Homo sapiens: one gene and its partners. The protein of the gene in region 1 interacts with the protein of each later gene in a pairwise test. Each region holds a gene or a part of one and is shown in the gene's direction. Other genes may lie near its edges.

Evidence for each region.
Region 2: the proteins of SRSF11 (region 1) and SRRM4 interact in binary tests that used the Homo sapiens proteins (3 or more experiments, as listed by UniProt).
Region 3: the proteins of SRSF11 (region 1) and HYI interact in binary tests that used the Homo sapiens proteins (3 or more experiments, as listed by UniProt).
Region 4: the proteins of SRSF11 (region 1) and TANK interact in binary tests that used the Homo sapiens proteins (3 or more experiments, as listed by UniProt).

What each region holds. Positions count from the first base shown.
Region 1 is NC_000001.11:70,231,372-70,238,405, forward strand, and holds part of SRSF11 (serine/arginine-rich splicing factor 11), read left to right. Parts: exon of another isoform or gene 1-739; coding exon of another isoform or gene 740-896; coding exon 897-1,006; intron 1,007-3,324; coding exon 3,325-3,417; intron 3,418-4,129; coding exon 4,130-4,179; intron 4,180-6,053; coding exon 6,054-6,181; intron 6,182-7,034. UniProt on the Homo sapiens protein: May function in pre-mRNA splicing.
Region 2 is NC_000012.12:119,159,521-119,163,565, forward strand, and holds the end of SRRM4 (serine/arginine repetitive matrix protein 4), read left to right. Parts: 3' UTR 1-3,531; downstream 3,532-4,045. UniProt on the Homo sapiens protein: Splicing factor specifically required for neural cell differentiation.
Region 3 is NC_000001.11:43,450,928-43,458,617, reverse strand, and holds HYI (putative hydroxypyruvate isomerase), read left to right. Parts: upstream 1-4,686; 5' UTR 4,687-4,824; coding exon 4,825-5,023; exon of another isoform or gene 5,024-5,120; coding exon 5,121-5,232; exon of another isoform or gene 5,233-5,613; coding exon of another isoform or gene 5,614-5,715; exon of another isoform or gene 5,716-6,298; coding exon 6,299-6,413; exon of another isoform or gene 6,414-6,604; coding exon 6,605-6,683; exon of another isoform or gene 6,684-6,770; coding exon 6,771-6,820; exon of another isoform or gene 6,821-6,900; coding exon 6,901-6,970; exon of another isoform or gene 6,971-7,073; coding exon 7,074-7,208; exon of another isoform or gene 7,209-7,306; coding exon 7,307-7,380; 3' UTR 7,381-7,546; coding exon of another isoform or gene 7,547-7,599; 3' UTR 7,600-7,629; downstream 7,630-7,690. UniProt on the Homo sapiens protein: Catalyzes the reversible isomerization between hydroxypyruvate and 2-hydroxy-3-oxopropanoate (also termed tartronate semialdehyde).
Region 4 is NC_000002.12:161,226,396-161,233,429, forward strand, and holds part of TANK (TRAF family member-associated NF-kappa-B activator), read left to right. Parts: intron 1-4,575; coding exon 4,576-5,156; intron 5,157-7,034.

The sequences.
Region 1 (7,034 bases):
TGTCTACATAAATATTTGTTTTAGGACCCTTAGATTTTATCTGAATACACAGATTAGGCTTTAAAAACAGATATATATGTCATTTTTGGCTTAAGGAGTTTGGCTAAGTTAGCTTTTCAACTGGCACTGTATGGCAGCATTTTTTGGTATGGTTAGCATGGCACATGGCGAAACATAAAGCATTTTACTGTACAGGTAAGGAATGTGCCATGTTGTTTTACCTATCTCTCTTTCTCTCTCACTCCCATGCACACATCCTGTGTGTATTCAGAGACCTTCAGAAACATTCATATTCATTTTCATGAGTCAGCAAAAGCCCTACGCTTGATTCCAACAGAATATTTCCTTTACATACTTTCTTCTCTTAATTTTTACAAAATTTGTATGGTAGGTGTAAAAGAAAATCATAGTAACTGTACCATATTATTAACCCCTAAATCAAACTTTTTTTGTCTTGTGTATCTTGATTTTTCTGTGTGCTTTATAGTGAAGCAGCCGACACGAGTCGTTGTTCATAAAACAGCTTTTGAAAGTTGAGAGCACACCCCTGGAGAACCGACTGTGCTTGCTTACGTTTGGTTCATGACTTAAAAATCGAGTACAGGTGATGAAATCTTGGCAGTGTTAACAAAAAAGTAGTGTGTATTGTGCTATTTTTTTTTACTCTAGAAACTTAACCATTTGTAGAGAAAAAGGAAACAAATTTTCACACATTGAAGTTCATTCTGACATAAAATTAATGATAAATAATCATAGAAATCAAGCTTTGTATTTTAGCGAACATAAGTACTTTCAACAAACTCAGGTGGTGTATCAGGGAGACATTTTCTGGGTGTTTTTGTGTGTTTTCTGTCTTAGAAAAGAATGTGTTCTAATGCAAGGATGTTTCTCTGCAGGAGTTATTCCTGATGAAGCTAAAGCTTTGTCTCTGTTGGCACCAGCTAATGCAGTGGCAGGTCTTCTGCCTGGTGGTGGACTCCTGCCTACTCCTAACCCACTTACCCAGGTACTAGTTCTATTGAATTCTTAAAGGGTGGGGAAAAAAACAGAATTGTGCATAAAGCTAAACATATTTGAACTTTGTAAGTACTCATAAGATTCTAGTTCAGATAGCATTATCACATGTCTATATCAAAATCACAAATAGTATAGAAGATCTCTTAGACTTTTGTATTTTAAGAACATTCTGAAAAATCATAAAATATCTGTTCTGTCACTTTTACCATTGGCTCTCAAAATAACCCATGAGTAGTTTTGGAACAGTCTCCTGAGGCATGAACACTTCTCTGAACACACTGTTAAAAATATATTCATTTGGACCAGGAAAGAAAACTGAAGTTAAAATTTCACAAGTGAGCCCTTCATTTTTTTTTCCTTCCCCTTTATCTTTTCCTGTTATTTGGGGGGTTTTGAATTACATAGGTGGCTTGAAAACAAAGGCAATTCTTGATGGAGATGTTTGATATGGGAATGTGAAAGAAAATTGGTTGCAATAGTGTTTCTAACACTGACAGTGCTGTACGAAGCTTATTTTAGAACTAAAAGGCACTTTAAATACTGTGTATTCTAATTACTGAGATTGTAACTGGTCAGTAGTTTCAAAGATTGTAGTGAATGAGCCTCAACTGGAAATTTATAAAAGCATTCTTTCTAGTGTATCATTTTGCCTGTCTAAATAATTGACTAATTGACTCTTAACTGTGAAGTGCACTATAGAATGAAAGATTAGGAGTTCCTAAGCTTTTTAGGTGTGACTTTTATCACTTAACTCCTAGGTTATTTCTTTTAACCTATAAAATGAGGATCTGAGTAATTTTCTTTATTCTTTGTTCTGTTTTGTTTTGTTTTTTTTTGTTTGTTTTTTGTTTTGTTTGTTTTTGTTTTTTTGAGATGGACAGAGTCTCGCCCTGTCACCCAGGCCGGAGTGCAATAGCACAGTCTCGGCTCACCGCAGTCTCCACCTCCCTGGTTCAAGCGATTCTGCCCCAGCCTCCCGAATAGCTAGGACTACAGGCATGCCACCATGCCTGACTAATTTTTGTATTTTTAGTAGGGATGGGGTTTCACCATGTTGGCCAGGCTGGTCTTGAACTCTTGGCCTCAAGTGATCTGCCCACCTTGGCCTCCCAAAGTGCTGGGATTACAGGCGTGAGCCACCGCGCCCAGTCCAGATCTGGGTAATTTTCTAAATTCCTTTAATGTATAAAGCTATGCAATAGCTATGTTGGACAGTAAGTTAAAATAGTATTAACACAGCATTTTGCCTGTTACGAATAAACAGTTAAATTATAGAAAGTTTGATAGTTTGTGTTTACTAAATAAATTGAAACAAGGAGAACTTGTAGCACAGGTGGAGAAAGTGAGGCTGTTTCAAAAGCTACAGATGGTTTTAAAGTAGCCTCACTTTCATGGTTTGTGTCTATTACATTATGGATTAATCAGAATTGGTGTCAAGCAGGTGGCAGAACCCTGCAGTGATTTGAACAGGGAACATTTAAGGAATTACTAACTAGTTATAGGAGATTACTAGGGGAACTCTAATGAATACAGGAATCACAAGTATAAGAAACAACCACTACCTCTGAGGCTGAAGCAGAAGGAACACCCATTTAGTTCAGGGGACTCCTCTTTCCCCATCTATGCTGAAACTTAGATTTGTTTTTGGAAGGGTGACTAGTAAATAAGTTCTCTTGGGTGCCCTGGGGAGCTGCATAAGGAGTTGGTATTAAAACTTACTGAGAGGCGAGGGCTACTGGGTGTTTGACATGGTGCTGCAGGAATAATCAGAAAGGGGACACAGCAACCAGGAAGAGCCCCTTTCTTAGTCAGTGTCCTTCCAGCACTCTTTCCAAATGAAGTCTTATATCATGGCAACTGTCAAAGGAGAAATGCTTTGTAAAGGTCCTGCCTCCGGTAGCACAAAACAGCAGGGCAAAGAATAGTAGATTTGGATCCTGAGAAGCAATAAATAATTAAAATCAGCACAAGAATATGTTGAAATATTTTGTCTTTTTTTCTTAATCTAGGATTTAGGGGGGAAATGTGTTGTAATGGGTGGAACATGGGTGTCATATAGAGCAAGACTCCTATTTCTGTTAATAGATTGTTATTGGACCACAGCCATTTGTTTAGGTATCGTCTCTGGCTGCTTTCAAGCTATGATGGCAGTAGTTATATGGTTTGTGTACAACTGAGGAGTTGTACGGAGACCATGTAGCCTGAAAACTCAAGTTGTTATCTGACCCTTTACATTAAAAAAGTATTAACCCCTGGTATAAGGAACTGAAATGAAGTTTTAAATAAATAAAATTTGCCATTTCACAGATTGGCGCTGTTCCACTGGCTGCTTTGGGGGCTCCTACTCTTGATCCTGCCCTTGCTGCACTTGGGCTTCCTGGAGCAAACTTGAACTCTCAGGTATACCTTAGTAACTTCAAATTTTTCACCCATTTTTACAGAAGATCTGTTTCATTAACTGTTGGTTTGCATTTCAAGAGCAGAAGCTAATGGCTATGTTGTAGTAATTTTTTTTCTTGTTTAAACTTGTCAGAGCTTTAAACAGTCACTGAATGACTAACTCCTTTATCCATTAATGGATTTCTTTTATATAGTTCAAAATAGAAAATAGATTCACAAGAAGCCAGTACATTATCAGTGTGTCATAGAGTCAGAGTAAATAGTCATGAAAAGATAAGAATGTGGTTTATAATTTTTCTATCATGGAAATTTTTCTTTTATTTTAATTTAGCTAACCTTTTTTTCTGAAGTTCTTTGTAGAGGTCTTTTGCATTATATTGGCTAAGGTGTTTTGAGTTTTACATGTTTCTTTATGTCAAAAAGTCTTAAAGGAGACATAATTCTATAATACCTAGACTGTTCAGCCTCATAATCTTTAGATAACTTGCTAAAGCTGCTCTATCCAATACTGTAGCTACTGATGTCACCGGTTTTTGTTTTGTTTTGTTTTGTTTTTTGTTTTTGTTTTTTCTTTTTTAATGTGGCTACTAAAAAATTTATGTTTCATGGCATGTAGTCTGCATGGATTTCTGTTGTTCAGTTTTCTGCCTAGAAAATATCGGTCATTTATTGTTTTATGTATTCTCATTATTCTTATGTTTTATTTTTACAGTCTCTTGCTGCAGATCAGTTGCTGAAGCTTATGAGTACTGTTGATCCCAAGTAAGCGTTTTTTCTTTGTTTTCATTGGTGATGTGGTATCTGAATGTCTACAGAATTAGAGTTTTTTTGATAGCTTATAAGAAAGTTATCAAGTTATCTTTTCTCAAGACAAGCAATATGTATTGTTACCTAGAAACAAGGAGAGAAATACAGAAGTAAGTAAGGTCCTCTAAACTATTTTGTTTCAGTGTCATTTGAGTCTTGAATAGTAATTGTAAATGACTTATACCTGGATGATAGCAAAAGAGCTAATAAGGGACAACTTCGTTTGAAGATCAGAGGCTGAGTCCTGAGGATAGTAGGAGTTAGAGGCAAAGCTGAGGGAATCACTATCCCAGAGCAAAGTAGTATTACATATTATATAATTAATAGCCAACATTTTATTTTAGGTGCTTTTGATAAGTGCTCTTCATGCTGTCACAGAAATTGTTTCCGACTTGATGATGTGACAGATTCATCAGTTTTTTTCACTGGTTATTTGTTGGCATAATAAATTTGAACTTTATACCTTTTCCCCTTAACTTGGTGAAAGTCACTATCAGTAAGTGAGAGAGCATGAAAAGGACAGAATCGTTGGACTTCAGTAGTTAGTGGACTTTTTTCTTAGAAATTATCTAAAAATAAAACCAAGCATGTACCCATCACCCAGCTTATAAAATAAAATAATACCAATACAGTTGAAGCTTCCTATATACCCATTATTTATTACATTTCCTGTTCTGCCCACAAATAACTACTAAATTTGTTGTCTATAATTTTTTTTTCTTTCTTCTTTCTTTTTCTTTTTTTTTTTTTTTTTGAGACGAGTCTCACTCTGTTGCCCAACCTGGAGTGCAGTGGCGCAAACTCAGCTCACTGCAACCTCCGCCTCCCAGATTCAAGCAATTCTTTTGCCTTAGCCTCCCAAGTAGCTGGGACTATGGGCACAAGCCACCACATCCGGCTAATTTTTTGTACTTTTAGTAGAGACGGGGTTTCACCGTGTTAGCCAGGATGGCCTCAATCTCCTGACCTCATGATCCACCCGCCAAGGCTTCCCAAAGTGCTGGGCTTACAGGCATGAGCCACCATGCCCGGCCTACAATTTTTTTTTTACATGTGTAAACCTGTAAGGGGCATCTTTAGCCTTTCCACTCAAGACTTCATGTGTAATTTTGGTAGGCCTTTGGCCTCTGCCTCAGTTCCTCCCCACCTACAAAGTAAAAGGTAATGCTCTTCCCCAAAAAATTACTATGTCATAAATTTTTTTTTTTTTTTTTTTTTTTTTTTTTGAGACGAAATCTCACTCTGTCGCCCAGGCTGGAGTGCAGTGGCGCGATGTCTGCCTCCCGGGTTCAAGCAATTCTGCTGTCTCAGCCTCCCGAATAGCTGGGACTACAGGCGCCTGCCACCATGCCTGGCTAGTTTTTTGTATTTTGAGTAGAGATGGGATTTCACCGTGTTAGCCAGTATGATCTCGATCTCCTGACCTCGTGATCCACCTGCCTTGGCCTCCCAAGGGGCTGGGATTACAGGCGTGAGCCACCACACCGGCCCAAAAATTTTTAATTTATATGAATAAAAGTTCTTAGCATCAGCATATTTTCTTGTACTGGCATTTCTAAAAATGTGTTTGTTTATGGAAAGTTAATGGATGTTCAGCAAAATAGGTATTTTTCTAATTCCAGATGACTCTTAGTCATTAAAACAAATACTTGTAAATATTCAAAACAGTGCTATGCTATATGTTGTTTACCAAAGTTATCATGGAGTCCTCCCCTCCCTTTTTTTGAAGGAATATTTTGCTAAAATAATGTTATATACTTAAGTATTTATTTGAAATGCTCGTGTGCATTTTAAAATATTTCAGATCCCATTTCTTGGTTCTGTTTCAGGTTGAATCATGTAGCTGCTGGTCTCGTTTCACCAAGTCTGAAATCGGATACCTCTAGTAAAGAAATAGAGGAAGCTATGAAAAGAGTACGAGAAGCACAGTCCCTAATTTCTGCTGCTATAGAACCAGGTAAACAATGTTTATGCAATTTTGTTGTGTGATTCTTAGCAAAAATGATTTTGACATAAATGTGGAATTGTGTTGAGTGACACCCTAGTCGTTTAAAATGTTGTAAACTCTGATAAAAGATTGTATAGTGGAGTGCCACTCAGACGTATTTGGAGACAATTCTGGTGGTCACAGGAGTACCAACTGCATCTAGAGGGCAAAGGACCAACATGTTGCTAGATATCCTGCAACAAACAGCACAGCCTTCCACAGCAGTGGTTAATCTAGTCCAAAATGTCAGTAGGATTATCTAATACTTGAAACGATATTTTGTTTTTCTTATTATTTATGTTTTTCTAAGTTGGGATAGCCTAATTTTAATTTTTTTCATTGATCAAGAGAACCTAGTGAAAATGCTTCTGTTTAAAATGATATTTCTTTAAAGAAAATTAGTTGTCTTCTTTGCAGATTGTCTTTTTGAGAGTAAATGAATAGATATCATATTATCTGCCCATATATATTTAGATCTATGGCCCTGGATTTTCTTTCTTATAAATATCTTGTTCATTAATAAATGGGAATGTTTTTTAATGTGCCTATTGTTAGGAAAATAATTTTAAAGTATAATAGTGGATAAACTGATACCAAATGCTTTATATGTATTATGTTATTTAACCAGGAAAATGTCAAATAATTAGCCACAGTTACATGGCAAGCAGTAGGAACTTTTAGATAGCACAGCCGGGTGTATGTAAAGTTTATGACACACCGTGTTCTAACTGCTGTTTATATTGAAAATATATGATTAAAGTGACTGAATGTAGTTTCTTTATGAACTGATGTTTTTACCAATATTTTTATGAATTTATTATAA
Region 2 (4,045 bases), on another chromosome or scaffold:
AAATGATGTCTGGTTTAGTACTGGAATTGCACTTGGGGTTGACAAGGTGCTCACACCATGAGAATGGAGGCAGGAATTGAGCTGACTGAGGGAAGATGCACCTTGATCTCACCCTCACTCCAAGGCACATAGCAGGATCACTCCCTAGCTTCTCTGAGCACACCTAGTTGGTTTCATGTATGTTACACATGCTTCCACTCCACAGTACCTAATTTCTCTCTGTCCCCTGAGATCTGAAGGCTACCTTGGGAAGAGGCATCAGCCATCTTGCTTGAGAACCACCAAGCCAAAAGCAAAAGCTTTTATCTATGATCTCTTGCTGTTTCATCAGGGGAAAGCACAAAGCTATTTCTGAAATTAGGAAAAAAAAAAAAAAGGTGGAAGGAGCAGCCAGATGTTCCACAGGACCCCACCAAGAAGGTCATTTCCAAACCCATCCTGGAAGGGCCCAGGATCCAAAGGTCATCAGTCCTGCTTATCTGACCAACTGGCAGTGTCTTCTGGCTGCTGGCCGGAGACAGCTCTTGCCCTTTCCAAAGTCACTGTCCACTGCCTTGCAATTGCCAGCTTGTCTGGTCCAGCTTTGGGTTTGGTGAGACTTTTGCAACATCCCTGGTTGTTTCCCTGGCAATGTGACTATCCAGCCCTAACCCAAAGCAAGGGAGTGCCCCTTTCCTGGGTGAAGTTTACAAGAAGGCTGCTTAAATGCCTGCTTCGGGGAAATCTCTGCCTCTCTCTCTCTCTGTCTCTCTCTCTGTCTCTCTCTCTGTCTCTCTCTCTCTCTCTCTCTCTCTCTCTCTCTCAGTGTATTTCTCTACTTTCTTTTACATTTCCTTTTTTTCTATCCAAAAACAATGTGCTTGTTGAGGCACTGGTAACCCTGATTAACCAGAACCTCCCATTCCCAGTATCGCTGTTCCTACGCCCATTTCACCCTCATTACCTTCTGCTTCCAAGGAATATGACAGATCACCAGGATGCTGCTCGTCGTGAGGATTTATCTCAAAAACCAACATCCAAAATGGGAGGGAGATGTGGCTTGAGGTCAAGCGCCATGCATCCCAAGCCTTTGACCTTCCCGCTATGGAAGTGCACTGGATGACAGAAACTGAATACATTGCTCCCTTTCCCTAGGGCAAAGTTCGACCTCTGTTAAGTGGAGGGATTTGTGAGATAAAAATTCAAAATGTTGGCCTGAGGCCTGAGAGTGTCACCAAAGACAGAGGGAGCTTCACTGAGACTCAGAGGGAAAAGGAAAAGAGCCTCAAACATTTTTAGGAGGTTGTCCATCATGAAAGTAAAAACGAAAAGCAAGATTTGATCTCCCTTCAGTTAATTAGGCAAGGCTAAGTAACTCAAAGCCCCCTATTAGTAACATTCTGGTTCACTGAGGTTTGATCATATTCCTATCTGCATTCCTTCCCTTCTTTGAAGGACAGCTGATCTTTCAGAAGCAGAATAAAATTAAGATGTTAGAACAAAGGTCTCAGTCTCAGAGAACCGCATCACTTCATTTGCTCAGACCCATCCTCTTTTGCAAAAGGGTCTGCTTGGAGAGGCCAAAATTCAGGGTGCTCTCAAAGGCAAAGAAAGCACATTGTTTTCCTTCTCCAGTCCAACTTTCATCTTTTCTTCTGCTGTTTTCTTTTCCCCTCTTCTTTTTCACAAATGTTCAAAATGGTCTCATGCGCATGTGTCTTGCCCCACTTTCCCCTTTAGCTGAACAGAAAATTTTGTCTCAGTAAAACGAAGTCAAAAAACAGGATTCCTCCAAACATGCCTCCTCCCGCACTGGCCAGCCGAGTCCAGCTGAGAAACTTATGCTAGATTCAATGTCATTGAGCAATGCTTTATTGAAGTCTCGTTCTTCTCACTTCTGCACCAGTGAGCCAATGATACTGACAGAAATGTCATCTCTCTTCTATCTGTGGTTGCTGTTTTTGGAGTAAAAGTTTCTGTGTGTGTTTTTTTAGTTCTTTTGATGGCTGTTGTTTTGCATTGTAAATACCATGATGGGGGACCCCCATCAGAACATGGCTTATTTAATAATTTATTTCGTATTTATTGAGTAATATTGGGAAAAGAGAAGGACCACCTCTTTCCCTGAATTGCTATTGAGAATTGGTCCATCTCCCAGCTCCAGGTGCTGCTGTCTGCAGCAAGGGCATTACTGCCCAGGTAAGGAGTGCTAGAATCACCAAGCAAATTGAAATTGGCAGAAATGGAGGCTTCAGTCACACAAATTAGACTCAAATGGAACTAAAACACTGGTTATCTCCAGGAAAACCTCATTTAGATGGAAATTAATGGAAGAATAAAATGCCTACACATGAACCAACTTCTATTAAAAAGTCACAACTCCTTGAAAAAAAAAATAAAGAAAAATTGTAAACTCTTTTTTTTTTCTGGCCAAGGAAAGCTATGCCTCATCTTCTAACGAGCCAAGCCAAAAAGACTGCAATGGTATTCCTATGTGTTTCTTTGGCCTGTGTATCAGTCTGAATGAAATGGAATGGGTCTCTAGCCTCAGTCTTGTCATCTGTAAAATGGGGCTTGTCCTATATATTATCTGCAAGACGTGGGAAATGGGGGCTCAAGCCCTGATGCTATGGACTCCATACTGTTGGATATATTGTCTCTTGTGTCTTCTGCTGACTGCAGATTAAAGGGTGTCAACCAAGGAAGGAAACAAAAAAGTAGGGCCTGGACTTCATTTGCAGAATGAGGTCATAGTCGTTGAGTCCCACAGTCATATATGGGAGACCTCAAGTTGCTGTCACCTTGATAACTCTTGTATCCTGGGTTAAAGCCCTCTGTATTTAGTTTGAACTTCTCTCTAAGCCCCGTGGTCCAAAGTCATCACGGGAGAGACCAAGATGGGCTTACCTTGCCCTGCTCTGGATTTAACCATTGTTCATTGTCAGGCTATATTTTTGTACAATCATTCAAATAACCCAGTGACATAGGTCATATTGCCACTTTTCAGAGGAGAAAACTGAGGCTCAGGAGGGGGAGTTGACATGCCCAAGCTCCCTTGAGCTCAGATCAGCTTGACTCAATGTCCAACATTCCCTTGGTAGCTTTTTCTCCGGGGTCCTGTGCTATAAGAACTTCTCTCTGCACTGTATTTTTTTTTCTCCCAATTCTTAGCTATTTCCTCAAGCAATGATTGGCCAAGGACCTAGCATAATCCACCACATTGGCCAAGGGGACGTGGTGCACCCCAAGGCCATTTCTCTGCATTGGAGGCTGCGAATCTCCTCTGGAAAATTCCCAACCCGAGGACCCACCATGAGCCCAGCTCAGCCTGACCAGACAGCCTCTGCCTGGAGCATTCACATCAGATGGAAAGAAGCTGCTGTGTCCTCCAGCATCCTGGGACCCTGTCCTCTGCCCAGTGACACAGCAGCCATGGCTAGCTTGATTTCTGGTCTCCAAAGCTAAGCATAACCTTCCCGGGGTTTCTGGTTTTTCAGCCTGTACGAAACATGTCTCTGTTCTAATTAAAGTTCCCATGGTATGGTGTTCTCATATATGGCTCAGTGTTCTCTGTTTATATGGGGTACTCAGAATTAAAAAATGGGGAGGGAAACAAGGAGCTAGAGAAGACTTAAGTAGCACCTGCTGCGTGTCATACATGTTCACACTACTCAGCTCACATCTTTAATCTTCCAAACAAACCTGTATGTATTTTGGGTTTTTGGTTATATATACAGCATATATACCAAATATATACATGTTATATATATATATATATATATGTGTGTGTGTGTGTGTGTGTGTGTGTGTTAGTAGCAGCTATGGAGTGCCTTAGGCAACCTTTTTGGAAGCATTTTATATGTGTTATCTTAGTATTCAGCAACAACCAACCCTATGAAGTAGGTATTAGGAACTTCTTCTTACAAATAAGGAAACTGAGTCTTAGAAAAGTAAAGTCACCCAGGCACAGTGGCTCACGCCTGTAATCCCAGCACTTTGGGAGGCTGAGGTGGGCAGATTACCTGAGGTCAGGAGTTTGAGACCAGCCTGGCCAATGTGGTGAAAC
Region 3 (7,690 bases), about 27 Mb from region 1:
GTGTACATGAATCTTGTATCCAGAAACTTTGCTGAATAATCAGTTCTAGGAGCTTTCTGGAGGAGTCCTTAGGGTTTTCAAGATAAACAATCATATTGTTAGCAAACAGGGACAGTCTGACTTCCTCTTTACCGATGTGGATGCCCTTTATTTCTTTCTCTTGTCTGACTGCTCTGGCTCGGACTTCCAGTACCATGTTGAAGAGGAGTGGTGAGAGTGGGCAGCCTTGTCTCGTTTCCGTTCTCAGAGGGAATGCTTTCAACTTTTCCCCATTCAGTATTATGTTGGCTGTGGGTTTGTCATTGATGGCCTTTATTACATGAAAGTATGTCCCTTGTATGCCGATTTTGCTGAGGGTTTTAATCATAAAGGGATGCTGGATTTTGTTGAATGCTTTTTCTGCATCTATTGAGATGATCATGTGATTTTTGTTTTTAATTCTTGTTTAGGTGGTGTATCACATTTATTGACTTACATGTGTTAAACCATCCCTGCATCCCTGGAATGAAACCCACTTGATTGTGGTGGATTATTTTTTTGATATGTTGTTGGATTCGGTTAGCTAGTATTTTGTTAAGGATTTTGCATCTATGTTCATCAAGGATATTGGTCTGTATTCTTTTTTAGTTGTGTCCTTTCCTGGTTTTGGTATTAGGGTGATGCTGCCTTCATAGAATGAATTAGGGAGGGTTCCTTCTTTCTCTGTCTTGTGGAATAGTGTCAAAAGGATTGGCACCAATTCTTTGAATGTCCGGTAGAATTCTGCTGTGAATCCGTCTGGTCCTGGACTTTATTTTGTTGATAATTTTTAAATTACCATTTCAATCTTGCTGCTTGTTATTGGTCTCTTCAGGGTATCTAATTCTTCCTGATTTAAGCTAGGAGGGTTGTATTTTTCCAGGAATTTATCCACTTCTTCTAGGTTTTCTAGTTTATGTGCATAAAGATGTTCATAGTTGCCTTGAATGATCTTTTGTATTTCTGTGGTGTCAGTTGTAATATTTCCTGTTTCGTTTCTTAGTGAGGTTATTTGGATTTTCGCTCTTCTTGGTTAATCTTGCTAACGGTTATTTTATTATTTTATTTTATTTTATTTTATTTATTGTTTCTTGTGACAGGGTTTTGCTCTGTCACCCAGGCTGGAGTGCAGTGGTGCAATCACAGCTCACTGCAGCCTTGACCTCCCCCAGACTCAAGTGATCTTCCCACCTCAGCCTCTGGAGTAGCTGGGGCTACGCACATGCCACAACGCCTGGCCAATTTTTATATTTTTGTCGAGATGGGGTTTCACCAGGTTGCTAAGGCTGGTCTGAAACTCCTGGGCTCAAGTTATCCTCCTGCCTCAGCCTCCCAAAGTGCTGGGATTACAGGTGTGAGCCACCCCCTCTGACCCATTGGGGACCATTTTACACGCTACCTGCCACAGGTTCTGGACAGATAATACAATAAAAGACCACTGTGCTGAGCAGTGACAAGTTGAGTCTAAAAAGTGATCATTAGAATTCAAACCAGACAAACAACACAAACAAGCTGAACCTGTAGAAAAATCTTGAGATTATAGTGATACCACAATGAGGATGTTAATATCAAATGTGCTAACAGATGGCAGTAATGCATACAGGTTTTAAAAATGTGTTTTTATTAAATATAAGACAGATAAAAAATGATATTTATAAAATATATGTTAGCTCTAAAGAAGAGTAGTAAAATTAACATACATGAATGTGCTATCCAACGTAAGAGAAGGCTCCAATGCTACCCTCTTCTGTCCTCCTCTAGAGGTGGTCACCATTATGCTGAATTTTGTGATAATTATTCACTTGTTCTTCATTGTTTTATCAGAGATGTCCATATTCCTACACAAGATACTGTTGGTTTTCCCTGCCTTTGACTTTATATCAATGGAATCACACTGTAGGTATTTCTCTGTGATTTGCTTGTTCCTCTAGAGATTATGTTTCTGAGATTTATCCACTTGATGCTTTCATACTGATGTTTTTCAGTTCCAATCAAACTTCACTAAGCTCTTCATATATTGTCCTAACACAGGAACAAACTCAGTGTTATCATTTGAGCCACCAGCTTTCTCTTGTACAACATGGTATGACTATACTATTACACAACTCATCTATGTATGGATGGATGGACATTTGGGTTAGTCCCATCTTTTTGCTACATAAATAGTTCTGCTGTGAACATCACTTTACTTCTTTCCTGGTACACTTGTGCAAAACTTTCTTCAGGGGATACACCTGGGAAAGGAACTGTCAGATCATAGGCATATTAGCTTTAAGAGACAATGCCAAATTGTTTTCCAAGGAGGTTATAGTGATTTACACTCCTGTTGGCAGTTGTTCCAAATCCTATCCAATATTTGATAATGTGTTTTTTATTTTTGCCAATGTGGAAGGCATAAAATAGAATTTCATTGAGGTTTTGATTTGCATTTCACATGAGTTGTAATATGTTTTACTGCATTGCCAAATGTTATCCAATGATCAAATGAGACTCTGAACTCTGTACTAAAGTTTTTGCCATTATCCATGCAACTATTTACAAGTTGTTGTTACTTTAAAATCACACCTGTGCAAATTATTTGGTTAAAAGTCAAATACGTACCTGTGAAGTGTGCACAATAAAGCAAAAAAAAAAGGCAAATGCAAAGAATCAAAACTTGTGATAACTTAGTGTCATGCCTGTGTTGCAAGGTGGGATAAGACATAGTCAAAGGTGAATAAAGCAAATAATTTTCATGGACATTGCACTCCTTATATATTTATTTGAGCATATTATGTGAAGGTGGAAGGTGTTGTAAGGGAATTAAGGGGAAAGTGAGTCACCTATGTCTAGTTTATGTATAATCTTTACTGCCCTAAGGCATGTCCAAGGAAAAAAGGGGTGGACAATCGGGAGTTGGACACATTTTGTTTCTGACGCAGAGCTCAGCAGCTGTCAACATCATAAATAGAATTTGCATACTCGGAGATCAACAGTGAGGTGGTAATAAAGGAATTACTTCCTCTAGATGTTACTCTTTGTTGTCAATTTTGGATTGCAAACACACTAAAGTTGGGACTGATTACAATGTTAAGCTTAGTGAGGTCTTGATTGGACGAGAAACACGTTCCAAGACAAGGCAAAGGTCCTAGTGTAAAACCAGCTGCAAAAGAGCATGAAATCAGGTGATCAGTGTCAGCTGGCAGCAGTCTGTTCTTGGAGGCAGAGCTGAAGAAACAGAACCTGCCAAGAATTTGGGTTCACCACGGGATCAGGCTGGATCCCTGGTGTCTGAGCTGGCCTCATTTGAGATGGAGTTGAGTGTTGACAGAACAATCAGTGGGAGCTGGGTGTTCCTAATGTTGCACTTTAAGCTTCTCTGTCAAAGTTAGCACAGACGATAGATCAAGATGACGTTTACTCATGAATTGTTGGGATATAAATTTATATTTTTCAAAGGAAATTTAAGATATCAACAACTTAAATATGTTCCTATTTTTGACCATGTAATTCTACCCATAAGAACCTGCCCAATCAGTTGGGTTATTGTAGATGAAAGTAAAATCATTCAAATTATCTCAAGAAACATTAAGAGGCTATACAGAGACAGAAACCCAGGAAAGTCTAAGCATCCCAGCCTTAAGTGCACAGACCTGGGGGCAGCTATGGGTTTGGGCACCCTTGGGATGACATGGGTTTCTCAGGGTGCTACCTCTATTCACAGGACTTGGTTCCCCTCCTTTCCGCTCTAGCTTTTCTTTACCATAGGACTGTCTTATTTCGTTTCTACAGCCCAGTCACCTTCTGGCAACACCACCTGTTGACTCTCAGCATTTCCTTGTTTGAACTCTTGATTGGTTAAATTACCTTTCCAAACGACGCAAGTAAGAGGTTTTTGGCCAGTCTATGGATTGGCTGCCCTGGGATCAGATGACCTCCCTGGTCCAATCAGCTGAGGCTAAGGCTAAAAAGGGACAGCTCACCCATAGCTGCTCCAATGGGGCGGTTTCCCTTGCAAAAGACTAGCGGCGTGAACGGGCAAACACTGTGATGGACATCTCTAGAAAAAGACTCGGAAAAGAGTCAGAGATAGGGACTAAGAAGTGCCTGAAAGTGCGCTTGCAGCGCGCGTGCACACACACGATATCCAACCACAAAGTACAATAATGACTTGCTGCTTAGGTGTGCGACAATGAGCAGCGAAGGCACTGACTTTGAAGGCTATTGGAAAACACGAGGAAATGCTCACAAAATAATATTCCATGAAAAAGAGCTATAAAACAGCATATACCGAATGATCAGAATTTCCAAAGAAAAAAATTGCATATTTTAAAATTTGGACGGGAAAGCCAACAGGCTAGTGGTGTGATAACTGGCGGTATAAAAGTGCTTCTTTATTTGGTCATACAGCTTTCAAATGTTGCTTAACGAACAGATAGCATTTTTATAATCAGAGGAAAGACTCAGTATTAAAGTGCGCGTCCCATCATTGCAACCGGGCCCTCGGGCAGCCAGCTCTCTCTTGCTTCGCGTCCGGCTCTCAGGCCCTGGAGCTCGGCCTCCCTACCTTCTCCAGGCGCGGGTCCTGCTCCTTTTCCGGCCGCCCTCGCTCCGCCCCTTCGCCTCTCCCCGTGATCCCTCTCTCGCTAACCGTAGGCGCTTTTCGTGAAGGCCCGGGTTTTTACAGCACTTCGCTTTTCTAACCACGAACAGTGCTCGTTCGTTCGCAGGGCCAGCAAGGAGAGCCCCGCCCCCGCCCGCCGCCCGCCGCCCGCCGCCCGCCGCCTTTGGATCCCGCGGACTCCGCCCGGCCCGGCCTCCCCAGGCATGGCGCCGCTGCGCTTCTCCGCCAATCTGTCCTGGCTATTCCCCGAGCTCTCCGGCCTCCCCGCGCGGGTGCGGGCCGCGGGCAGCTCGGGCTTCGAGGCCGTCGAGGTGGCCTGGCCGTACGCGGAGACGCCTGAGGCGCTGGCGCGCGCCGCGCGAGAAGCGGGGCTGCGGCTTGTACTGATCAACACGCCCCCGGGTGCGTCGCGGGCCGGGAGGGCTGGGAGGGCTGGGGGGTGCCGGGGCGCGGGCAGGGGAGTGTCCGAGCCGGGGGCTGAGGCCCGTTCTCTCTGCAGGAGACCAAGAGAAGGGGGAAATGGGGCTGGGGGCCGTCCCCGGGAGACAGGCGGCCTTCCGAGAGGGACTGGAGCAGGCCGTGCGGTATGCCAAAGCCCTGGGCTGTCCCAGGTACCCCGCTCCACCCCACCCCCACCCCTGTGACCCATGACCCTGATGCAGGTTCAGGGAGTCGAGGACGCCAGATCTGAGACGCTCAGAAGTCTGAGCCCACTGGTTTATCTCTGCCTCTGCGGTCCTGGTCCTTTGTAAATTGCCTTTTGTATTTTATCTGTCTTATGCCACTCTGTTTGCCACTCTTTCATGCTCACCCCATGCTGGGATCCCATGCTGGGAGCTCAGTCTGCCTAGGCAGATAGGAGAGTAAATATATACAGTGATGCATTTGAGGACAGGCCTATTCCAGGAAGCTGTGGGAGCAGGGTAGGCACCTAACCCTGTCTGGATCAGAGAAAGCTGCTTACAGGTAGTGATGCTTGGACTGTCTTCAAGGAGTGGGCATTGCTTGATGGGCAGGAAGTTGAGTGTTCCTTGCAAGGGTGCTGTGGCAAGAGGAGGCCTGGTGTATTTGGCAGCGTTCCTGAGGCTGGACATGTATGTAGCCTGTTGGGATGGGGAGGCCTGGAATGTCTGCTTGGAGCTGGATGTGGCTAAGATCAGGGGATGATGGGAGGAGGTGGACGGCTCAAAGTGGGGCTGATTCAAATGTCAAATCCTGCAGAGGCCAAACAGGCTCAGAAGGAACTGGCAAGAGGGGATCACTACTGGTCAATGGTGGGGGCAGAAAACAGATGGGAAAAGGCTAAGTAGATGCGAGGAGAGGAAGTAGAGACAGCAGCATGGAATACCTGAGAAGGGCAAGCAAAGGTCAGGACAATTTTTAAAGGTGAGAATTTAGCAGGTTACAGGTTGCGGAGAAGGACCGAGGGAAGGAAAGGTTTTGGAAAGTACTGGAGGCAGGAGGCGGTGGGTGGACACTGAGATGTCTGGGAAAGGGCTTGCCCCTCAGCCATCACTGAAGTGTCTCTGAAAGTGCTGGGATACCTGGGCATCGTGACCCAGGTGCCATGGACTGGAGACCTGGGGAGACGGACGAGGGCTGGCACAGTCAGGGAATCCTGGAAGAGGTGCAGAGAGAGCCAAGGGAGGCAAGGCCTCCAGTCCATCTTCCCCACAGGATCCACCTGATGGCTGGCCGAGTACCCCAGGGAGCTGATCGAATAGCAGTCAAGGCTGAGATGGAGGCCGTTTTTCTGGAGAACCTGAGGCATGCAGCTGGGGTTTTGGCTCAGGTGAGAAAGGTGGAAACACACACGTACTTACATGTCTCTGTGGGTGTGCGGAGAAGGGGGTGCACAGTGGGGACAGCACGTGAGGCTGCCAGCCTAGGTCAGAGGAACAGGTGAGGGCCTTGACCAGTGACTGACTGATGGGGGACAAACTTGGGAAGGAGCTCTATTCACAGCACCCGACATGCTGCTAGGAGGACCTCGTGGGACTGCTGGAGCCCATCAACACCCGCATCACTGACCCCCAGTACTTCCTGGACACGCCCCAGCAGGGTACGACCCCAGCCCTGTCTCTCCTTCTGTCCCTTTTGATTCCTGTGCTCTTGAGGCTCACGGTCCCCTCCCTGGCTTCTCTTACAGCGGCAGCCATCTTACAGAAGGTAGGAAGACCCAACCTCCAATTACAAATGGTAAGTGGAAGGGGGTACTTCGCAGATCGGAAGGAGGGCGGGGCCTGCGGGGTCTCGGAATGTAGTATCCTCTTCCCTAGGACATATTCCACTGGCAGATCATGGATGGGAACCTGACAGGAAACATCCGGGAGTTCCTGCCCATTGTTGGTGAGAGGACCTTCCTTTGCCCTCCCACCCTTTCAATCCCCACATCTGTCCTTCAGGCCCTGGCAGGAGCCTGGACCCCACATTTGTCCACATCTGTCCCCAGGGCATGTGCAGGTGGCACAGGTCCCAGGCCGAGGGGAGCCCAGCAGCCCCGGAGAGCTGAATTTCCCCTATCTGTTTCAACTGCTGGAAGATGAAGGCTACAAAGGCTTCGTGGGCTGTGAGTATCAGCCTCGAGGTGAGGCGTGGCCCTGGGGAAGGGAGCTCTGGAGGGACCCGGACAGGGGCTGTTTTCTCCTTGTGGGCTGAGGTGCCGAGGCCTCCCTCTCCCTGCAGGAGACACAGTAGAGGGCTTGAGTTGGCTACGTTCATACTGGGATAGGCGGGGCCACCCAGAGGCTGGCCAGTGAGGGCCCGCACACCACCCACGTGCCTCCAGACAGCGAGTGACATCCCATCTCCTCCTCTGCATTAAAGATGACCTGCTGAACATTGTCATATGTCTCTGTAATGGGGTGGTGGGACACATAGTGTCTAACACTTCAGTTTCTCTGCTGCTTCCCTCCCATTGAGAAGCCAGTGCCAGGGTTGCTGTGAAGATGGGAGAGCTTCTGAACCCACCTCATTAAAGGATGAGAAACCCAGGGTCCGAGAGCAAAGGGACTTGACGGTGGCCACAAGTGCTTCAAAGGCAGAGCTGGGATTGGAACCCAGGTGTCA
Region 4 (7,034 bases), on another chromosome or scaffold:
GTCCAAAGAGAAACCAAAATAAATATTATACTCTGACAGTGGTATATCAAAAGGAGAAAGGAAAAAATATTTTTTGAAAAGATGCCTATTCAGGGTTTCCAAGTATGTATGCTACACTGTATAAAAATATAGAAGAACTATTTTGAATATGATTTGCACAATATATCTGGGAAGAGTACGTGTATTGTCCCTATGTTATTTTGTATTAAAATTTGATTTTTACTTTTAAATAACCAGATATGATTCATTTGAAAATACTGAGTTAGTAGAATTCTACATTTCCTATTTATTATTACTTTGTTTTTTCTACTCATCTACATATGGCAGTAGACTTAAGAAATGATAAAGATAAAATGTATGTTTATCCATAGCTTCAAATAAAGTACTGTTTGGTTCATAAAGGAGTGTCCAATTTCAGTAGAGATTGGGAAGGAAGAATATAGGATTAAGGGTAACAAACATCCATGAGAAGGGTAATAAACAACCATGAGGTCTTTTTCTTTTGTCAATATACAACGTGATTATACTGAGAAGTAACTAAATGGATAGCCTGTATTTAAAACTGGGAAATCTAAAAATATTTCCCATTTTACTTTTTCCTTGCAAAGCTAAGTAGTCTTAAAATAGACAAAATAGAAAAGCTATTTGCTCACCTGATCATGTTTCTCAATATGGTGTCAGGATGACAAGTGCTTTCATGCATCTCATTTGAGTTTTAAGTTGTCTCAGCTTAGATTTCTAGTAGCATTAGGAATGTAAGGTTTAAATTTTTTTAATAGATATTAACTCTCACTGCTTGAGCAGATTAACTCAGATTATTTTAATGTGGCTGAGTTTTATGCCAGCTAGCTTTGCTGAAAGAAAATATCTGTTTTTTTAGAGCTGTTTGATTTCTCCTCGTTTTGTTCACAGCGGGGATAGATCAACTGCTAGAAAAATAATTCAAAGCACATTTCTGTCAATTTGGGGACTTCTCTCTATATATAGAAACCAACATGTTCAATTTAGCCTAATGGTTCAGAGCACAAATCTACAGTTAGGTTGCCTGGGTTCCAGTGGCAGATCTACCACTTACTATAATAGTTGTGTGGCCTTTGAATTAACCTCTCCAACCAGTTTCTTCACATGTAAAGTGGGGATAATAATAGTGCCTGCCTCAGGATTACTTTGAGTATTATATGAATTAATGTACATACAATTATTATAATAGTACATGCCATGTGGAAGTGCTATTAATGTTAATAGTCATTTCCATTAGCAGCAGCAGCAGCAGATTCTCCAGCATTCACCTTGTTCTCCTTGTGAAGATCATTTGATAAGTCTCTCCTCTTCGGGTGTTACAGAATCTGATTACCTCAACAGTTGGTTTTCCTGATTTGTTATTTGCAAGTAGCAAATGTCATCTACAAAGACAGTACTGTTTCCTAGACTTTCCTACCACTTTCAAGTCTACTGCCAGGGAAAATGACTACTCGAGAGTTAATGGACTTTAAGAACCTCAGAGGCTAAAGAAATCCAGATAAACAATTAAGCTTGGTGACAATTACTATAGCACTCCTAGTCATAGAGTATCTGGTAAATGTTGATTATTATAGTAGGCTTTGTAGGGGAGAGATTACAGATTCATTCAGAATTCATTTGTTAGGGGCATACTATGTGCCAGACACTGGGCAAGGGTCTGGAGTTAGAAGGAAACAAAACAGTTTAAGACCTCAAAAAACCTACTTTAGTGGGAAGAAACAGAGTTATACTTGGAAATACAGTCATGTGCCAAATGACATTTTCAGTCAACAACAGATTGCATATACAATGATGGCCCCATAAGATTATAATGGTACTTAAAAGTTCATATCAGCCCAGGCACAGTGGCTCATGCCTGTAATACCAGCACTTTGGGAGGCTGAGCTGGGCAGATCACCTGAGGTTGGGAGTTCGAGACCACCCTGACCAACATGGAGAAACCCCGTCTCTACTAAAAATACAAAATTAGCCGGGCGTGGTGACGCATGCCCGTAATCCCAGCTACTCGGGAGGCTGAGGCAGGAGAATCACTTGAACCTGGGAGGCAGAGGTTGCGGTGAGCCAAGATCATGCCATTGCACTCTATCCAGCCTGGGCAACAAGAGCGAAGCTCGGTCTCAAAAAAAAAAAAGTTAATATCACCCTAGTGACATTGTAGGTAGCTGTTGTTACATTGTAGCACATTTTGTTTTTTTTGTAAATTTAGTGTAACCTAAGTGTATAGTGTTCATAAAGTCTACAGTGATGTACAGTAATATCCTAGGCCTTCACATTCACTCACCATTAACTCACTGACTCACCCAGAGCAACCTCCGGTCCTGCAAATTCCATTCACGGTAAGTGCTCTATACAGGCATACCCATTTTTTATCTTTTATGCCATATTTTTACTGTACCTTTTCAGTGTTTAAATACACACATACCATTGTGTTACCTGCAGTATTCAGTACAGTAACATGTTGTATAGGTTTGTAGCCTAAGAACAATAGGCTATACCATATAATGTAGGTGTGTAGTAGACTATACTGTCTAGCTTTCTGTAAGTACACTCTATGATGTTTGCACAATGACAAAATTGCCTAAGACTGCATTTCTCAAAATGTTCCGTCGTTAAGTGACACATAACTATATAACAGTGTGTTTCAGTTCTCAGGGCATCCAAGAGTCATGGGAGAGTCATCCAGAGAAACTTATGTCCAAGCCAAGATATGAAGGACAAATAAGAGTTGGGCAAAGAGTAATGGGAGGGGACACTTCAGGCAGTCTGCACAGCAGGTGCAAAGGTGCAAAGACAAGAGAGTGTAGCTATTTTGGAGAACTATACAAAGTTCATTATAGCCAGAGTATGGAGTGAAAGATGAGCATGGAGAGATGACCAGGGGCCAGTCATGAACAGTCTAATAAGCCTTTTCTGAGATCTGAGGGGCTTGTAGAGCCATCAAAAGATTTTATTAGGAAGGTAACTTGGTCAGATTAGTATTTTAGAAAAACTACTCTGAGAATGAAGGGATGGAGGGGAAGTTGCAGTGAAGAGAACAGATTGGATATGAGACAAATTCAGAGGCAAGGAAGCAGTTTAAAGGCTGTTATAATAATCCAATAAGAAAGGATGGTATGAAGAGAGGTATAAAGAGAGGCAGTAGGTATATAACAAAATGAACCAAAGAAGTTGGTTGCATTTTACTACACATACCCAAACAGAAAAAAATATATTGGAATGTGCTGTGGCAAAAGACAGAGAGGTGTCATGAGACTGCCAAGACCAAAGGAATATAAAGGAACTGACATTTGTTAAGTGCCTACTAACCTGTACAGATACTTTGTATACCTTGTGTTCTGTATACCCTGTCTACCTAGATTTGCATCATTGGTAATGTCTCCATTTGTGAATGTTCAACAGTGCTGATGACAATCCTTAAAATACATACATTACCAACTTCAGTGCCTTCTTTAAGGGACATTGTGGAGCTTAATTTGGCTTTTTCTAGTGTCTCAGAATCATCAACATGGAGAGTACTTTGATGATTGTTTTTTTGTATTGAGCACTCATTGGCCCTATACTAGACTGTAGTGTTTTCTAAGTTCTTATATCAGCTTCTTTGTCTTTCTTATCTCTTCCTATGCTTTTAGCTCTTGTTGATATCTATGTCTGCCTTTAGCAACTCATACTCCCTTTTAATTTGCTGTTTCAAACCAGCTATGAGCTGTGGAAATACCACCAAGTTTGTTAGAATAAATCTAAAATGACAATAGGAACAAAATTCATCTATCTATGAACCTTGTGGCTCTAATTCTGGCTCCTCAGAAGCTCTGTTTTCTTTCTAGCTTTTGACTGTGTCCTACAAAGCTGAATTTGTTGGATAAGTGGTTCTAGATAAATGAGCTACAGAGGCCCTTTTGTCTACCAGATATTTACCTGTTTTTTACAGAGGTCTTTTTTAAAAAAAGATATAAGATGATAAAATAATCTATTCATCCACAGTTTTCTTAACATGCATCACAATATTTCATCCTTCCTTTGCCTTCACTGTCTTCTTTTTCCCAACTCCTGCAACCACCAGTCCCTCACATGGATTATTGAGAGCAGACAGTGGCTAAACTGATTAGTGATATACTTAGTTAGACAGTGACATTAATAATAAATGACCTAATTTTAGATATACCTAGTAAGATTTTCCCTTTTAACAACTTATTTGTCTAAGCAAACTCACAGTTATAGCTTCCGTTACTGACAAAATGTTTAAATGTATACACTACAAGCAAATGTTTTTCAAGTGTGGAGCAGTGTAACTGTGAACAAGATGCAAAGCTTACGGCAGAAGACTTAGGAAAAGACAAAGTAGTTAAATTGCGACTAATAAGCTATGTTTCAGTTCACCCGCTGGAGACTGCTAATATTCTGTGTAAGATGGTAGCAAATTTTAAAATCCCAGTTGTCTTCATTTGCTATAAAAACCAATAGAAAAAATAATAATAATCTCTCCAAAGCTGATTGAACAGATTTTTTTAATGATTTGAATGCGGCTGTTTCTCTTTTGTGTTCTTCTCCCTCCAGAAACACAGTGCTCTGTGCCTATACAGTGTACGGATAAAACAGATAAACAAGAAGCGCTGTTTAAGCCTCAGGCTAAAGATGATATAAATAGAGGTGCACCATCCATCACATCTGTCACACCAAGAGGACTGTGCAGAGATGAGGAAGACACCTCTTTTGAATCACTTTCTAAATTCAATGTCAAGTTTCCACCTATGGACAATGACTCAACTTTCTTACATAGCACTCCAGAGAGACCCGGCATCCTTAGTCCTGCCACGTCTGAGGCAGTGTGCCAAGAGAAATTTAATATGGAGTTCAGAGACAACCCAGGGAACTTTGTTAAAACAGAAGAAACTTTATTTGAAATTCAGGGAATTGACCCCATAGCTTCAGCTATACAAAACCTTAAAACAACTGACAAAACAAAGCCCTCAAATCTCGTAAACACTTGTATCAGGACAACTCTGGATAGAGCTGCGTGTTTGCCACCTGGAGACCATAATGCATTATATGTAAATAGCTTCCCACTTCTGGACCCATCTGATGCACCTTTTCCCTCACTCGATTCCCCGGGAAAAGCAATCCGAGGACCACAGCAGGTAACTGTTTTGCATTAACAAATATATTATTATGTGTGAACACACATTTTGCCATACATGCACAGATATGCATCTCTTTTACGTTATCAAACATCCTTTTTAAACTACTGACAGCCAAAGTTAAGGCTTTCAAAAAAACAAGTCCCATAATAAATGACATGAAATTAGAAAAGCTGAATATGGTAAAACTTTATTGGAAAGTACCTTAGAATTTATGTCAGATTTAAAAATACATGTTAAGCCTTATCCATATCTGTCGTGGTGTCACTTTCTTAGTTCCTTATTCAAAGCTTGTTTACTCAGGATTAATAAGAATATTAAATTTCATAGTGTGAAACAAATGCTGTTTTATTTAATAGTTTGTGTATATCATATTCATCTTTATAAGAATTCAAGATCTTTCATAAGTAAATAATTGCATCTTACATTTCTATTTATCAAAATAAGTGAACTATCTTTCAGTGAATACTTCTACTACATCTTCAGTTATATAGTACACAGATCTGTAGGGTTTAGTTTGGTTTTGGTTGCTAATCTGGAAATGAACATGTAGCCTAGTATATTTTTTAAATAGTCTCTGCATGTGTATGATATCAAATATTTTATTTAATGTTTCTAAAGCTCACAGACTAATATCCCCCAAACCACTCCTGCCCTCCCTTTTAGATTCAAATTCTATCACAGAATGATTCTTTTAGTTAAAAAAAAGTTTAATGTCTGAAAGCAAATGAAAACTATATAATTTTTACAAAAAACAGAAGCTTATGAAAATACAGATTGATGTAAATGTCTATGTAACTTGCAAACATTTGTCTGATTTCTCTTTGCCTTGAGATATTTAATTTTTTTAAAAAAGTTATTAATACCCTTTTGCTTTAAGTACACATATAGGTTATAGACTTAAATCAGCACGCAAAGAAGGCAGTTGTCAAGCTGTGGTATATTTTAGTAGTGGGAAGAACTAGGCATGGCTGACAATAAGTTTTAATTATAACCTCACTTATGTTCTTGTTCATTGTACTTTATTTCACATCATAGTCTCAGTTATAGTTGCTACTAAATGAAACAAATTAAACAATTTCATTTATTGCAAGTAGAATTCCTGTGGAGCTGTGAAGTGCATCAGTTCTAATGCTTGTTACTTTTTTCTCTATTATATGTCTTGCTTGTTCTTTTACTAGTCTGTGCATTCATGTTTCAGTAGATGGCACCCTGCATTGTACATTTGCTTTCTATACTACAGCAAGGGAAACAGCTGGTATGTGATTACAACTTGATGGAAAAGTATTCAGCTTAAAAAATTCAGGAGAATTAGTGTTGAGTTGTCACAAGACATGGGGCATAAGGTTAGATAATTGATATTTTGGCAGAAAAAGCAAAGAAATTAGTTTGTTTTGAAGACCATGTTACAGTTTAGGATGGAAAGAATATTTCTTAAAATGAGTTTTTTAAAAAAAACCTTTTAAGCTATTTTATTAGTATTAATAAAGCTAGTATTATGCAAGCTAGTATAAGTACAAAGCTAGTATAAGTACAAAATTCCTGAGTTGGGCCAGGTACGGTGGTTCATGCCTATAATCCCAGCACTTTGGGAGGCTGAGGCAGGAGGATTGATTAAGCCTAGGAATTTGAGACCAGCCTGGGCAACATAGTAAGACCTTGTCTCTACAAATACGTATAGTTATATAGATATATGTAGCTGGGTGTGGTGGCTTGTGCCTGTGGCCTCCAGCTACTTGGGAAGCTGAGGTGGGAGGATTGCTTGAGCTAGGTAGTTCGAGGTTGCAGTGAGCTGTGATGGTGCCATCACACTCCAGCCTGGGTGACAGAGCAAGACCCTGTCTCAAAATAATAATAATAATTTTTTTTTTAAAAAAA